Regions from separate parts of the Homo sapiens genome. Here region 1 is linked to region 2. The links come from fine-mapping of genetic effects on gene expression. Tissue or cell type: aorta. Region 2 holds a variant in brackets; the other region holds the start of a gene. All regions are shown on one strand. Distances are between the middles of the regions. Region 1 holds the start of MSH6 (mutS homolog 6). Region 2 overlaps MSH6 (mutS homolog 6).

The links. PIP is the estimated chance that this variant, and not a neighbour inherited with it, causes the effect.
Region 1: MSH6 starts here. The variant in region 2 is fine-mapped to the expression of MSH6 in aorta (GTEx, PIP above 0.99).

The regions. Positions count from the first base shown.
Region 1 is chr2:47,778,304-47,786,819 of GRCh38, reverse strand. MSH6 (mutS homolog 6) reads right to left here and starts at 3,675. Exons shown (of 10, transcript NM_000179.3): 1 at 3,327-3,675. The coding sequence starts at 3,586. RefSeq lists silencers at 2,893-2,982, 3,183-3,342, 3,623-4,102, 5,253-5,434 and an enhancer at 4,233-4,302.
Region 2 is chr2:47,800,903-47,808,902 of GRCh38, reverse strand. MSH6 (mutS homolog 6) reads right to left here. Exons shown (of 10, transcript NM_000179.3): 4 at 7,748-8,000; 5 at 5,218-5,483; 6 at 3,876-3,993; 7 at 3,196-3,285; 8 at 2,545-2,699; 9 at 2,252-2,451; 10 at 1,950-2,124. The coding sequence ends at 2,043. FBXO11 (F-box protein 11) reads left to right here. Exons shown (of 23, transcript NM_001190274.2): 22 at 476-574; 23 at 656-1,983. The coding sequence ends at 785. Among named protein-coding and RNA genes, the nearest start is that of MSH6, 22 kb to the right of the region's middle. The variant G/A (reference allele first, on the strand shown) is at 4,670.

The DNA.
Region 1 (8,516 bases), 22 kb after region 2:
TTCAACAACAACAACAAAGCCATAAACTAAATGAAAGAACTCATTGTGAAAGAAGACATTTATATCACACACAAATGACAAAGAACTAGGAAAAAAAAAAGAAACAGCAAAAGACAAACACTTCAGCACAAGAAGAAATCTAAATGACAAACATTAAAAGATGCTCGGACAGACACGGTGGCTCACGGCCAGGTGCGGTGGTTCACGCCTGTAATCCCAACACTTTGGGAGGCTGAGGTGGGTGGATCACCTGAGGTCAGGAGTTCACGACTGGCCTGACCAACATGGTGAAACCCGTCTCTACTATAAACACAAAAATTAGCTGGGCGTGGTGGCAGGCACCTGTAATACCAGGTACTTGAGAGGATGAGGCAGGAGAATCGCTGGAACCCAGGAGGCGGAGGTTGCAGTGAGCTGAGACCACACCACTGCACTCCAGCTTGGGCAACAAGAGTGAAATTCCGTCTCAAAAAAAAAAAAAATACGCTCAACATGTTTTAAGGCTTAAATGATTCATGGAGTAAGTCCGAATGTCTCTGTAGCTCATCAGACTGTTCATGATTGGATCTCTGCTTAACTTCTCCAATGCTCCCTCCTCCTCCTTTCATCCTACCCACAATTTGCAGACCTTCCTCTTCCTGAACCAGCTTCCCACTCTCACTATAATCTGTCTAAGCTTATTTGTCCTTCTGGTTTCGGTTTACAGAGCTGAGAGCCTAGCCTGACCCGCATCCTCTCCGTCCCCTTTCCACTTGGAGTCTACAATTGCCTCTTTGCTTTGTCCTGTTCATGGTTGTATCCAGGATCCATAATGCCTAATGCTGTGCTCGGCAGAGTGATCTAGACACTGCAGTTTCTTTAGAAACCTAGTATCAAATGCCCATCTTTCTTGAATACCCTGGAATCCTCTCCATAACGGGAGGTGAAATGTATACGTTTTATTTTTACAAGTCTCTTAAACTCAACCTCAAGAAACAAATAACATACGCTATTCAATATGAATGTAAAGTACATCCTTACAATAAATACACCCGTTTGGTTTGGATTCAACAATCAATTCATGCTCAAGTAAACAATACGTCATGCTTTTCTAACCAGGAGTTTGTTATTGCGGATGCTGGCTCTGTTCCCCACAAGCATATTCTACTAATGCACAACTATATATATTTAAACTGCGGGAAAGGGTCGCTTAAACAAGGGTAACACTATAATTACACTTAGAAAAATCTCAGAATTCCTTTAGGACACTTTAAACTGGATTTAAATGGATTTGAAATCCATTACTCAAAACCACTAACTAGCGGCCGGGCACGGTGGCTCACACCTGTAATCCCAGCACTTTGGGAGGCTGAAGTGGGTGGACCACTTGAGGTCAGCAGTTTCAAGACCAGCCTGGCCAACATGGTGAAACTCCATGGTGAAAAATCAGCCGGACCGCGGTGGGCACACCCGTAATCCCAGCTACTCGGGAAGCTGAGGCAGGAGAATCACTTGAACCCGGCGGGCAGAGGTTGCAGTGAGCCGAGAAAGCGCCACAGCACTCCAGCCTGGGCGACAGAGCGAGACTCCATTTCAAAACAAAACCAAACAAAAAACACGAACTGGCTCTTATCTTGAATGAGTTATTTTTTCTGAGCCTTTATTTCTTCGTTTGTTCAAATAGCGACCATTAAACTTTGTGTTTAGTATCTGACAAACGGCCGGGCTCGGTGGTTCATGCCTGTAATCCCAGCACTTTGGTAGGCCAATGCGGGCCGATCAAGAGGTCAGGAGTTCGATACCAGCCTGGCCAACATAGTGAAACCCGTCTCTACTAAAAATACAAAAATTAGCCAGGCGTGGTGGGGCGCACCTGTAGTCCCAGCTACTTGGGAGGCTGAGGCAGGATAATCTCTTGATCCAGAGACAGAGGTTGTGGTGAGCCAAGAACGCGCCACTGCACTCTAGCCTGGACAAAAGAGCAAGACTCTGTCTCAAAATACATATATATGTATCTGGCAAACAGCAAAAGCAAGCTTTTCAAAATGTCGCCAGCTGCCCGGATAAAAAGCCCTAAACAGACCGGGCGCGGTGGCTAGCGCCTGTAATCCCAGCACTTTGAGGCCGAGGCGGGTGGATCACCTGAGGTCGGGAATTCCGAGACTAGCCTGACCAACATGGAGAAACCCCGTCTCTACTAAAAATACAAAATTGGCGGGGTGTGGGGGCGCATTCCTGTAATCCCGACTACTCGGGAGGCTGAAGCTGGGGAATCGCTTGAAGCCGGGACGCGGAGATTGCGGTGAGCTGAGATCGCGCCATTGCACTCCAGCCTGGACTTGAGCGAAACTCTCTCTCAAAAAGGAAAAAAAAAAAAAAGCACTTAACTGCCCATAAAGTGAGGACAACTCCCGACAGGCTTCCCCGGAGTCACTCACGTCCACACATCTTTGTCCAGCGCCCGATTAAGGCCTCTAAAAGCCCAGTGGTGCCCCATAAAAATTACACTATTTCATAAAATAAAATATTTTCCACTCGACACGAATTTCCACATACGTCAAAATATTCTATCTTCGTCTCGGTGCACGTGCAGCCTACCTACCGAAGGACCCAGCCGGATCCCAGCACTTCGGCTCCCCACGGCCCCGCCCCGCCCAATTAGGCCCCGCGGTCCCCATGGTGACACACCCCCCCGCGCTCGCAGCTCGTGGCCCACCCCCTCGGCGGCCCCTCACCTAGGCCGAAGGCCCACCGTCCCCAAGGCGTCTCGGCGACCGCGGCTCTTAACTACCTCTAAGTGTCTACCTCGATCGACTACTGGAGCCCCAACTCACTATCTCCGCGCCGGCCGAGGAACCTCCTTTCGCACCCCACACCACCGGACTCTCCCCGTTCGGCCTCCCGCAGGCATTCCTCCTTCCCGCCACCCCGCCCCCCGCCCCGCCCACCAAGTGGGCCGGGCGCCTTCCCCTTCTCGCCCCACCCCCAGTGCTCCCACCTCCCAGGCCCCCTCCCCACCCGGAGCTGCGCGCGTCGCCCCTTCCTTAGCCCAGCACCCCCACCTGGCGGGACGCGTCTCCTCCCTCCAAAAGGCCCGAACTCTCCGCGTCTCCCCTGCAGCCCTCTTCCTGCACAGCCTCTCTCCTCCGACCCTGTTTACAAGCTACACCCCCAAATGCTCCAGACTCGACCCCTGCACTCATTCAAGCCAACTCTGCGGCCCCGCCTCCTCCGAGCCCAGGGCCAGGCCGTGCACCCCCCCAACCCCCTGTGCGAGCCTCCCCTCGCCGGGTTCCAAGCGCCCCGCCGCTATGCCCCCGCCTTCGACCCCACCCCCACCCCGCTACCTGGTGGGGGCAGCAGGCGCTACCGATCTCCGCAGCCCTCCGTTGAGGTTCTTCGCCTTGGGCGGTGACGCGGAGCGCGCCAAGGGCCTGGGCCCAGGCCCAGCCTCGCTCCAGGCCGCATCCCCGCCTGGGGAAGGAGAGGCCCCGGGGGCAGCGGCGGCACGGCCGCCTTCGCGTGAGGCCCTGGCCGAGGCCTTGTTGGCATCACTCAGCGCCGGAGACTTGGGGAAGAAGCTGTACAGGGTGCTCTGTCGCGACATACCGACAGCCGGCAAGGCCCAACCGTTCTGTCGGACGGAGCTCCTAAAAGCACCGCATCTACCGCGCGGCTCCTGCTGGCGGGAAATCTGGGGGGAGGCGCGCTCCGCCGGAGGAACCCGGGCCCCAGTGGCCAATCAACAGGCGCCTCGCCGTGCGCGGGCGGTGCGCGCCAGGCCCCGCCCCCGGGCGCGCGGCGACGTGGGGAAGGGCGGGGCTGGCACACTGGTGGGTAGGGGCGGGGCTGGCACGCTGGCGGTGAGGGGCCCGCCCTGCCGCCGACGCCTGGGCCCCGCGCGGGGAACTGCTGAGCTCCCCTTCCCTCACGCCGCGGGGCTGGCCGGGCCGGAACACTCCGACCCGGGGTTAGTTGCGGCCGCGGGGCTAGCAGGCTCGGAAAGCCCTGCCTCTCTGGAGCGGAAGCGGGAACAGCGGGGGCGCGCACCGCCCGGGCGGGGATAACCGGGGGGACCCGAAAGGCCTCGGAAAGGGGCTCGCGGGGAGAAACGCGTCCAGCGCTCGCGTGACCTCCTGCCGTTAGAGCATTTTCGCAAGGAGACGGAGCGAAAGGGACCAAACTTTAGTCAGCAGTTCACCTTCACGTTGTATTCTCAAGATTTGTATAGAGTAGGCACTTGGTAAACGCTAAATGAATATTGTAATAGCATTCGTTAGCGATGCTGTTGTGTATGGTGAAAGCCTGCAGCTGTACAAAGTTTTCCTTTGCCAGGCACTGATCCCAGCATTTTACATCTGGTAACTAAATCGATCCTCTCAATAACCTGTGACGTAAGTACTTAAGGGCCACAGTCCGTTATCTGAGCCCTTTGACCCAGGTGTGTCTTTACAGGATTTTTCAAATTTTAGAAAGCTAAGAGACTATGAGAGGCCGGGCGCAGTGGCTCACGCCTGTAATCCCAGCACTTTGGGATGCCGAGGCGGGCGGATCACCTGAGGTCAGGCGTTGAAGACCAGCCTAGTCAACATGGTGAAACCCCCGTCTCTACTAAAAATCCAAAAATTAGCCGGGCGTGGTGGCATGCGCCTGTAATCCCAGCTACTTGGGAGGCTGAGGCAGGAGAATAACTTGAACCTGGGAGGCAGCGTTTGCAGTGAGCCAAGGTCGCGCCACTGCACTCCAGCCTGGGCGACAAGAGCGAAACTCCGTCTCAAAAAAAAAAGAAAGAAAGCTAAGAGGCTATGAGAATAAAAAGGTTCTATTCAAATTCAAGAAAGATAGTGGAAGACAGACAATTGTTTGTCCCCTTATCCAGATTGTGAAATCCAGATTGCCGGAAACCAGTCACAATCAACAGCTGTACATTGGTAAAAACCTATGTAAAATTAGTTGTTTGCCTTGTTCTTGGAGACTGTTCTGCCAGAAGGTTCTCCTTTGCTAGGCAAGTAATAAAATCAATCTAAAAAAAAAAGGCGGGGGCCGGGCGCAGTGGCTCACGCCTGTAGTCCCAGCACTCGGCACTTCGGGGGGGGGGCGGAGGTGGGCGGATCACGAGGTCAGGAGATCGAGACCATCCTGGCTAACACAGTGAAACCCCGCCTCTACTAAAAATACAAAAAATTAGCCTGGCGTGGTAGCACACGCCTGTAGTCCCAGCTACTGGGGAGGCTGAGGTAGGAGAATGGTGTGAACCCGGGAGGCGGAGCTTGCAGTGAGCCGAGATCGCGCCTCTGCACTCCAGCCTGGGCGACAGAGCAAGACTCCCTCTCAAAAAAAAAAAAAGAATATTGCCAAAGGTGGTATGTGCTAAGAAAAATACAGTATGCTTCACGAATTTGCATTTCATCCCTGTGCAGGGGTCATTCCAATTTTGGTATATGTGCTACCCAAGCAAGCACAGTGAAACCAACTGTTTGAGATAATATTTGAGAGTTGGTCTCTTTCCCCCACCGGCATACGTAAACACCCCCAGAGAGTCTGGGGGAACATGCTGAAATCAAACATGCAGTAAAACTTACATGCTTATTCATACTAAGTAGAAAGAATACAGAATATAGACTATAAATAGCCTCAGGTCAAAATTTGCTACCAAATGAGTTTACCCCCAAACTTTTGGTTTACAGAGCTTTTTGGATTTCAGAATTGCACGTAAGAGGCTGGTTATCCTGTATCTCCATATCATGGATGAAGCTGAGGCACAGTTGGGTCAAGTAACTTGCCCATGACTGCATAGCTAGGAAGTGGTGGAGCCTGGATTTAAACTCAAGGAAGCTGGTTCTGGAGCCCTATGTTGTTAACAGAAATACTATAATACTTCCAATTTAACACCATTTTATCTCATTTAGTTATTACAACCACCTTATACTAGGTTGAACTATGTGAAATTGCCAAAATTTGCCCTTTTTAAAATTTTTTTGAGACAGGGTCTGGCTCTGTCACAGAGGCTGGAGTATAGTGGCGTGATCTTGGCTTACTGTAGCCTCAACCTCCCAGGCTTAAGTAATCCTCTCACCTCAGCCTCCTGAGTACCTGGGACCACAGGCCCGCAACACCATGCCCAGCTAATTTTTTTTTTTTTTAATTGAGGAGTCTTATTCTGTCACCCAGGCTGGAGTACAGTGACGCCATCTTGGTTCACTGCAACCCCTGCTTTGCGGGTTCAGGCAATTCTCATGCCTCAGCCTCCTGAGTGCTAGGATTACTGGTGCCTACCACCATGCCCAGCTAATTTTTGTTTTTTAGTAGAGACACGGTTTCACCATGTTGGCCTGCCTGATCCCAAACTCCTGACCACAAGTGACCCGCCTGCCTCAGCCTCCCAAAGTGCTGGGATTACAGGTATGAGCCACTGTGCCCGGTGCCCTGCTAGTATTTTAAAAATTTTCTGTAGAGACGAAGTTTCACTATGTTGCCCAAGCTGGACCTTTTTGGTTTTTTGGTTGTTTTGTTTTGAGACAGGGTCTTACTCTGTCTCCCAGACTGGTGTGCAGTAGTGCAGTCTCAGCTCACCACAACTTTCACCTCCCAAGCTCAAGCAATTCTCCTTCCTCAGCCTCCTGAATAGCTGGGATTACCGGCACGCGCTACTACTGCCCAGCTAATTTTTGTATTTTTAGTAGAGACAGGATTTCACCATGTTGGCCAGGCTGGTCTCAAACTCCTGACCTCAAATGATCCTCCTGCCTCGGCCTCCCAAAATGTTGGGATTACAGGCGGGAGCCACTGCGCCCAGCCAAGCTGGACCGTTTTTGAAGTACAAATATTAATATTTAATTCATTTTGGTTCAACTGAATATAACGTTATTCTCTTTTTGTTGTTGTTGTTTGTTTTTTTGGGGATGGAGTCTTGCTCTGTCACCGAGGCTGGAGTGCAATGGCACGATCTTGGCTCACCACAACCTCCGCCTCCCAGGTTAAGGCAATTCTCCTGCCTCAGTCTCCTGAGTAGCTGGGGTTACAGGCACCAACACACCCAGCTAAGTTTTGTATTTTTAGTAGAGATGGGGTTTCACCATGTTGGCCAGGCTGGTCTCAAACTCCTGACCTCGTGATCCGCCCATCTCTGCCTCCCAAAGTGCTGGGATTATAGATGTGAGCCACTGCGCCCGGCCGATGTTATTCTTTTACAGGGAGGAAATGGAGGTTCAGAGGGGATGCGCCAGTTGTAAGAGGTTAAGAGCCTGGGCTTTGGGTTAAATGGAGAACTGAGCTCTGATCCTAGCTAGCCAAGCAGATAACTCGGAGCAATTAATACTTTTCTGAACTTGTTTCCTCGTCTTTGATAAGGACAGTAGTACCTATGGGCCAAATTTTGGAGGCTACAGTTAGATGCCTCCCACAAACTTCATTAAAAGACAAGAGAACACATGTATTATGTGGGGACACTCAGACCCCCAGAATTGGCATGAATGTTACTTGGAACTGAAGACATTTGAGAGCCAACAGATGCAGAAAGATGCCGTTTCAAAGCTTCCCTTATGCGACTAACAGCAGAAATTTCTGGGAGTGAAGCTGCCGTAAATCTCCTCTCTAGGGGAGTTTTAGTGGCCAGAAAAAAAGACAAAGACCACTTGCACCTGCAAAAACAAACATTCTTATCTCCCTTTTGTTCCCCCAGAAACCTATTTGTTCTTCCCATGGAAGGCTTTTTCTCCCTCCTCTTCCCCTATTAAATGGTATATATAAAGTAGATTTCGAGATTCAAGAAAAAAAAAGTTGTATAAATGCCAAATAACAGCCTCCTGGACTCACTTTTTTTTTCTGTGAACTCCTGCATGCATATCTGAATAAAAGTCTGTCTTTTTTTTTTTTTTTTTCTGAGACAGGGTCTCACTCTGTTGCCCAGGCTGATCCTCCAGCCTCAGCCTCCCAAGCAGCTAAGACTGCAGGTGTGCGTCCTCACACCCTGATAATTTTATTTTCTGTAGAGACTGGGTCTTGCTATGTTGCCCAGGCCGGTCTCCAACTCTTGGGCTCAAGCCCTTCTCTCTACTTGGCCTCCCAAAGTGCTAGGATTACAGGCCTGAGCCACCGTGCCCGGCCCTAAACTGTCTTTAGTCTGCAGTGCCCAACCAACACATACATTCCATGACTATATATGGGTTATTTTGAAAACTGAATAAAAATATTTTTCTTTTATATGTATTTTTTTTTCAAATGGCTACACTTAGTAAATTGCATAACAATCAATGGAGTTGTTTTGGCCTAGGAGATGTGGCAGGAAAGTACTAAGGTAGTAAATATACTAGGTGTTTGGGAACCTCTGGCCTACTGGTTAAGAGCTCTGTATTCAAAGTTTGTGTTCACATCCCAGCTGAGCTGCTTACTAAACTGCACGAGCTTGTTGGGCAAGTTATTTAGCCTGTGCCTCAGTTTCTACATCTGTAAAACAGGGATGATATTAACACTACCTTCTTCATGGGTTGTGCTAAGCATTGAGTGAAAGGGCATTATGAAGCCCTCAGCCCAGTGCT
Region 2 (8,000 bases):
CAACATAGGGAGACCCTGTCTCTACAAAACAAAACAAAGACCATAACTATGGAAAAACCTAATGCTACAGTAACTGATGTCATTCATGTAACTCATGTTGTGTAATGTTTTCCTAGAAATTTCAAGGTAAAGATGTCGGGGTTAAGTGTTTGATATATCCCAGTCACTGTGACAGTTTTGACTCTTCACGCCTCCAAAAATTGTTTTCAGCCCAGAAACATTTGAGAGGCTTTTAAAGTGGAAAGAACTGCCTTTATACAATTTACAAATCATTTCTCTTCCCTCCGAAGACACAGATGACAGGAAAATCACTTACTCCATTAAAGTTCCTTTTCAGAATTAATCTGGGCTGGAGCCACAAAGAATTTTGTTTTGGTCCTCTTAAAGCCAAAGGTCATAGTAATATATAAACAGAATGGAATGTTTTGCATTAATGACATGTTTGAGAAAAGTAATTTAAGCTTTTGCTTTTTAGATGTCATACTTGTAACACCACAGATCGAAATGCCATATGTGTGAACTGCATTAAGAAGTGCCATCAGGGACATGATGTAGAGTTTATTAGACATGATAGGTATGTAGCACACTTGCTTGATATATTACCCAATTACTTTCCCCCTCACTTTTCTAATATTTGGGTTTCATTTTGCTTTAGGTTTTTCTGTGACTGTGGTGCTGGAACACTGTCTAATCCTTGTACATTAGCTGGTGAGCCTACACATGATACAGATACACTATATGACTCTGCTCCACCTATAGAATCTAATACATTGCAGCACAACTGAATTCCTTCCCTAAAGAAAAAGTCCTGCCATTGTAACATCATAACTTAAAACACTTTTTTGGAAGAAGATTTAAAATATTTGCCCATGCTACAGGAAGAGACTGTATTAAAAATGGATACACAAGGTCAGTTGACACTATGAAGCTCAAGCTACCAAAAAGAAAGTGGCAATATATTGACTCAGGATCTCAAAGCTGGGTGTTTTAGCATTACTGTGTAAAGACTTGAAGGGACAGAAGTGAAGAAAATAAGCTGCAATTTTGTACAGATACCAACTTCTGAAAAGCTGGTGTTTTTACAACTAGCATTGAATGCAGTCCAATTTGCAGTAGTAATCTTCAATAGACAAGCAGCTTTGTTGCTGCCTTTATGGACATGGGTACCAATTGCTTTTGTAATATGGTAAAAATGTGAGCTAGCACTTCTGCGTTCCTTTTGATTTTTTTTTTTTAACATGTATTCAGATTGAGAAATATGATTTTAATGCTTTAATCTCATGTAGTTTGTTTTTAATTTCAAGCAAAATCTTACTGTACTTGAATGTGCCCTGTTTTGTTAGCACACCTAGACTTGCTGTAACTGTACTCATGTCCCAGTATGTACGTTCTTTCTATGAAAGAGAAAACACTAATCTTAAATTATATCCAGCAATGTTTCTGGTATCCTTTAAGAAAAGTTAAGACTATTATTTCCTTCCCTTCCCTGTGCAGCATTCAAAATCACCCCTAGAAAAAGTGAGTGTTTTAATGAGACTTCCTAGGAAGGGATGCACTGTAAAACAAAAGTATTCTTGTAACTCAGTTTTGTGAAAGGTAAAAAACTACTATGTTTTAAGTACACTTTAGAAAGTCTCTTCAAAACAAACAGTCCTGTATTTGAACTCTGTTCATAGTTTTTTTTTGAACAGTTTAGACAAAACTGCTGGAAATTAAACCAATTTCCTGCATTAAGCTGAGACAAGTATATATACAGCCCTATACAGTTTCATAGCTTTTCCTCCCCCATTTATGTGTATTGGTGACAGTGGGTATAAAACAGCCTGAAAGTGTATGCATGTACCATAACATCTAGACTTAATATATTGTGGAGTATTCAATAACCATTATGTAGAAGGTAGATAAGAATTAAAAGGGTTTAATTTCCTAGAAAGAAAATGGAAAAATGGTCATTTTTAAAAAATAAAGTTTATTAGATCATAATGTTGTCTGAATTTACCACCTTTGTCAGAAGTCAACTCAAAGCTTCCAATGTAGTCAGTCTATAATTCCTTAATCAAAGTCAGCAATTTATGGACAGCTTCAGCATCTACAGTTGACCTTTCACTAGCCAGGCAAACTTCCCTTAAAATTAAAAAAAAAAAAAAAAAAGTTTTTTTGTTTTTTCATAGTGCATCATCCCTTCCCCTTTTACTGTTTCTTTGAAACTTAAGGTCAGTTAGTTATAATTCCATTATAGTTAGTTAGTTACCGAAATAATCGTAGTGACTGATTCATCTTCTCAAATTCTCTTGCTTTTCTATGTCCCTTTTGAATAACTTCCTCTGGGAGATTAGCAAGCCTTGCTGCATTAAAGCCATAGCTTTTAGGACAAGCTCCCTTAATGAATTTATAGAGGAACGTAATAGTCTCCTGGCTGGGGTCTTCACATTCATTTTCTACCATGCATGCCTTAAGAAAGAAAAATATTAGCGATACATGTGCTAGCAAGAGAAGTGCCCTCTCAAAAAACCGAATTTGTGGAAAAAAACAATTTGCACATACCATATGTCCTAGGCGCACAGCAACATTTTGAGAATAATCTTCTACTAATGAATGGTAGTGAGTTGAAAATAATGTACGACATTTTATAGTCTCAGCAAGTTCTTTAACAACTGCATTTGCTATTGCCGTCCCATCAAATGTTGCAGTACCTCTTCCTGTTAAAGTAAAATATGCATAAGGAAGTAACTCAAAGGAATTAAAACAAAAAAGGAATTAAAACAAAAATGCTAGGACAGAAAAGCAACATCGGTTAGTACATCCACGTCTAAAAGCATTCTATAAATAGGCCTTGTTTAGCTACACGAGTCTGCTTAGCAGCCCATGGGGAGTGAGGTTTCTTTTAAAGAAAATACAGTATCGCTCAAGGTCATAAACTTCCTGAGTCCTCCTATTAGTGTTCTCATCCCCGTAGTATAACAAATGTTTTATTACAACTAAACAGTGTAAGGCCTAATAATTAATGGGTAATCAAAAACCTTTCACAATATCACCTTTTATCTCCAACTATCGGTCTGTGCCACAATGGTGAGTGCGTGCTCTAAAAACATTCATATTGTTTAAATGTACTTCAGATAATCTTCTATAAAAATAGTTATTTGTACAAATGTTTTTAAGATAGATAGTCTTCAAATGAGAAGTTTAATGTCTTACCTAATTCATCCACAAGCACCAGAGAATGTGCTGTTGCATGCATGAGTATGCTGGCAGTTTCACTTAATTCAACAAAAAATGTACTTTCACCTTAAAAAAAAAAAAATCACAAATGAATACTCATTTTGCAAATCATATTACATAAATTCATCTTCTAGGTTATATAGCTATCATGAGCTACACATATTGGTATAAAAGATTAAATCTCATTAAGAGACTATGCAATTATTGGCCGGGCACGGTGGCTCACGCCTGTAATCCCAGCACTTTGGGAGGCCGAGGCAAGCAGATCACCTGAGGTCAGGAGTTAAGAGACCAGCCTAACATGGTGAAACCCCGCTTCTACTAAAAATACAAAAAATTAGCTGGGCGTGATGGCATGCGCCTGTAATCCCAGCTACTCGAGAGGCTGAGGCAGGAGAATCACTTGAACCTGGAAGCAGAGGTTGCAGTGAGCCAAGATCGTGCCATTGCACTCCAGCTTGGGCAACAAGAGGGAAACTCCATCTCAAAAAAAAAAAAAAGAGAGAGAGACTATGCAGTTCTTAAAAAGTGATGTTTTTAAAGTAACACCAGAAAAATCAAATATTAGATTTAAAAGGCTCATATACAAGAAGCAAATATCTTTTATCACATCTAAATGACTGAATGAGAACTTAAGTGGGAAACAAAAAACTCACCTGACATTATTCTGTCTGAGGCACCAAGTCTAGTAAACACTCTATCAATTGGTGTGAGCCTGCACACTTCAGCAGGGACGTAACAACCCATCTGGGCCATTACAGCTAATAAGCCAGCCTGTGAATGAGGGAGGAAAAGGTCTTTTATGACTGGTAGTAACAGTTTCATAAACTTTTGTCTTTCTTATGAACCCTTACGTAAGAGCTAGGCACTCTAAAACAACTTTCACAATCACATGTACGTTGGTTCTGTTCTGAAATCCATTTGCTAACATGGAGAAAGTTGAGGCTAAGAGAGACAAGAGGCATAGGGCCTCACCTGGCCTTTAAAACATCAGAGCCTGCTTACCAACCCACTACCCTAGTGATTCTCAACGCTGGCCAGAATAGAATCACCTAGGAGCTCTTTAAAACTACTGAGATGCCTAGAATCAATTCCAATCAAGTGAATCCATGTCAGGATGGAATCTCTGCACCTTTTTTTTTTTTTTTACACGTTGTCACATTCTTTCAGGTGATTCTGATTTAAAGAAAAAGTTTGGAAATCACTATACACACTATACTGCCTCTCTCTAGCAAACTAGGTGAACAGAAGTATACTATAATGCAGGAGAGCAGCGGGGACCAGCCAACTACTACTATTTCTTACAACCTTTTAAAAATATAAAAAACTTTACAAGTTCTGTGGCTGGTCAACCCCTGGTTATAAAGAGAAGATAAATACAATGCCATAAAAAATTTTTTTAAAAATGAGCTAGGCATGATGGTGTACATCTGTAGTCCCAGCTACTGGG[G/A]AGGCTGAGGCAGGAGGAAGGGTTGAACCTGGGAGTTCGAGGCTGCAGTGAGCTGTGATGGTGCCACTGCACTTCAGCCTTGGCAACAACAAAAAAAAAAGGGCCAGCATGTCATCCCTAAAGAGCAGTTTTCAACAGTTGCTAGAGGTCATGAACTATATTTGCTTTCTTACCTCATTTGCATTTCTGCAAATGAGTCTAATTTAAGGATAAACCTGTAACATTTTCATCTTTTCATACAGCCTTTGTATTTTTGTTCACTATGAATATACCTACCTTCTGAGGAAATGAATTCAAGTCAAAGGGCCTCATGACCTGAATGACTGACCTCCTTCCCCTTTTTAACATATATTCCCCTTAACATTAAGCATCGATGTTTCAGCTAAATATAATTCTCAATTTTATAACACAGGGAGTAATTTCCCTTTGCTTCCTATTAAGTCACTGGCTGACTTTTATGTAACTGTGTTTGGAAAATGATCACCTAAGTATGTTATTCCTAATGTCACAAATGACTTTCTGATAACAAAACTTTAAGAATCAGTTACCTGTCTCATAAGCGTAGACTTGCCCCCCATATTTGGTCCAGTAACAAGCACACAATAGGCTTTGCCATTTTCCTGCTCCTCTTCCTCACAGCCTATTAGAATGTCATTAGGAATAAAATCATCTCCAAAAAAAGTCTTCGTAATGCAAGGATGGCGTGATCCTTTAAGCTCTAAGAAGGGGGGGGTATCTTCCGGCAACAGAATTACTGGGCGACACATAGGACCATCACCCCCTCGACTATAGTTAGCCAGGCACAGTAAAACATCTGTTAAAAGAGAGGGTAAAAGTGAGGCTTCATCGTTTGGGGGTTTTATCAGCCTAAGTGTTTTATAGGTCTTCTTTATATAACACATTTCATTATAAGACATAACTTTCAATTACAGTCCAACGATCTCCCCCATCAAAATACTTACCCTCTAACATCTGGACCATAGAAGTGCCAAGGGAAAGCTAAAAGATAGAGCAGAGGCCAGGCACGGTGGCTCACGCCTGTAATCCCAGCACTTCAGGAGGCCTAGGCGGGCAGAGTTCACGAGGTCAGCAGTTCAGGACCAGCCTGACCAACATGGTGAAACCTCGTCTCTACTAAAAATACAGAAATTAGCAGTGCCTAATACACGTGGCATATGCCTGTAATCCCAGCTACGCAGGAGGCTGAGGCAGGAGAATCACTTGAACCTGGGAGGCAGAGGTTGCAATGAGCCAAGATCGCACCAATGCACTCCAGCCTGGGCGACAGAGAGACTCTGTCTCAAAAAACAAAACAAAACAAACACAAAACAGCAGAAACATGCTACACTTAAGCCTCTTACTTAGCAGAATGTGCCAAAGTTGGCACACTGATATGAAAACAATCTCTGAAGACTGGTTTTTGAACACCTGTGCTGAGGAAGAATTTTAAATTACCCAGTAACCAAATGCAGCACACTAAAAGGAAGTATATTATTCTGTTCCATTAGATACTTGCGTTCAGATCAAAATAGTTTTGTGTTACTGTGTTACAAATTCAAGTAAACTACCATTATTTAAAAAAAAAAAAAAAAAAAAAACAGGGCTGGGCGCAGTGGCTCATGCGTGTAATCCCAGCTCTTTCGGAGATCAAGGCGGGCAGATCGCTTTGAGGTCAGGAATTCAAGAACAGCCTGGCCAACACGGGAAAAACCCTGTCTCTACCAAAAATACAAAAATTAGCCAGGTGTGATGGTGACCACCTGTAGTCCCAGCTACTCAGGAGGCTGAGGAAGGAGAATCACTTGAACCCAGCAGTTTGAGGCTGCAGTGAGCTAGTCATCCCATTGTACTCCAGTCTGAAAACAGCAAGACCCCGTCTCTAAAAAATTAAAAAAAATATACAACATAAACCTAAACTATAAAACAGCAATGGTTCCAGGTAATGTTGGCCGTGACATTTAAAGAACAAAATTGCTTATGAAGTTGAGATGGTTGCCAAATTGTAAATTCCTAACTCAGGGCTTTGAAAAATCAATTGTAGGAAAGAATCTTTGACAATTTGGCTACAGAAAAAAGGAATGATTCTTTTAAAATTGTATGCAGATGGATTCACTGAAATGCAAAGGTTGTAATAAAACAATTTTTAAATGTTGGATCAACAGATAGTGTAACAAAGCACCTTGAAACAGTATTCACCAAATAATAAAAAGCTCAACTTTTTATTGATAAATAAAATTCGATCTAAAATAAAGCCTGTCTCATGAAGTATAACACATTTAAAAATCTTTTGGGCCGGGAGCGGTGGCTCATGCCTGTAATCCCAGCACTTTTGGGAGACTGGAGGATCACTTGAGGCCAGGAGTTCAAGACCAGCCTGGGCAACATAGGGAAGCTTCAACTCCCTTCCCCCTTCCCCCACCAAAAAAATAAAGCAGGGCACGCCGGTGCTTACCTGTAAATCCTAGCTACCTAAGAGGCTGACACGAGAGGTCTGTCCTGGGTAACAGAGCAAGACACTGTCTAAAAACAAAAACCTTTTGTTCGATTATTAAAGACTGAAGAAAGGGCCAGGCGCAATGGGTCATGCCTGTAACCTCAGCACTTTGGGAAGCCGAGGCAGGAGGATCACTTGAGCCCAGGAGTTCAAGACCAGTCCTGGCAACACAGTGAGACCCCATCTCTCTACAAACATTTAAATATTAGCCATGCATGGTGGTGCATATCTGTAATCTCAGCTACTTGGGAGGCTGAGGTGGAAAGATCACTTAAGCCTGGGAGGTCGAGGCTGCAGTAGCCATGGTTGTGTCACCATATTCTAGCCTGGGCAACAGAGCAAGACCATGTCTCAAAAAAAAAAAAAAAAAAAAAAAAACTGAAGAAAGGCCAAAGGGCTACTAAGATAAAAGCGAGTTTCAAGTAACTTAAATTGCTGTGGGCAGCCTAGTCAGGATGCAAATATGTATATGCATGTCAAAATATGTACCATATATACCTTATTACTTATTTTTAGGGATAATATACAGCTGGCAAACAGCACTACTTATCAAAGCCTGAGAACAAGCTTGTTCAAAGTCTTACCCAACACTGCGATACACTCTACAGCAGACTGCCAGTCCTTGTAATTTTTATCAAAGTTATAGAACAGTCGCCGCATGCAGTCCTTCAATGATACATCCCTCCGTTCTTCAGCATTTATGAGATTAGCCAACTTCTTTTCAATAGTTTTGGTCCAGTATCGTTTACAGCCCTTCTTGGTAGATTTCAACTCGTATTCTTCTGGCAAATTGCGAGTGGTGAAATTCTCAGGAATTTCCAGCTGGTAACGGTTCCT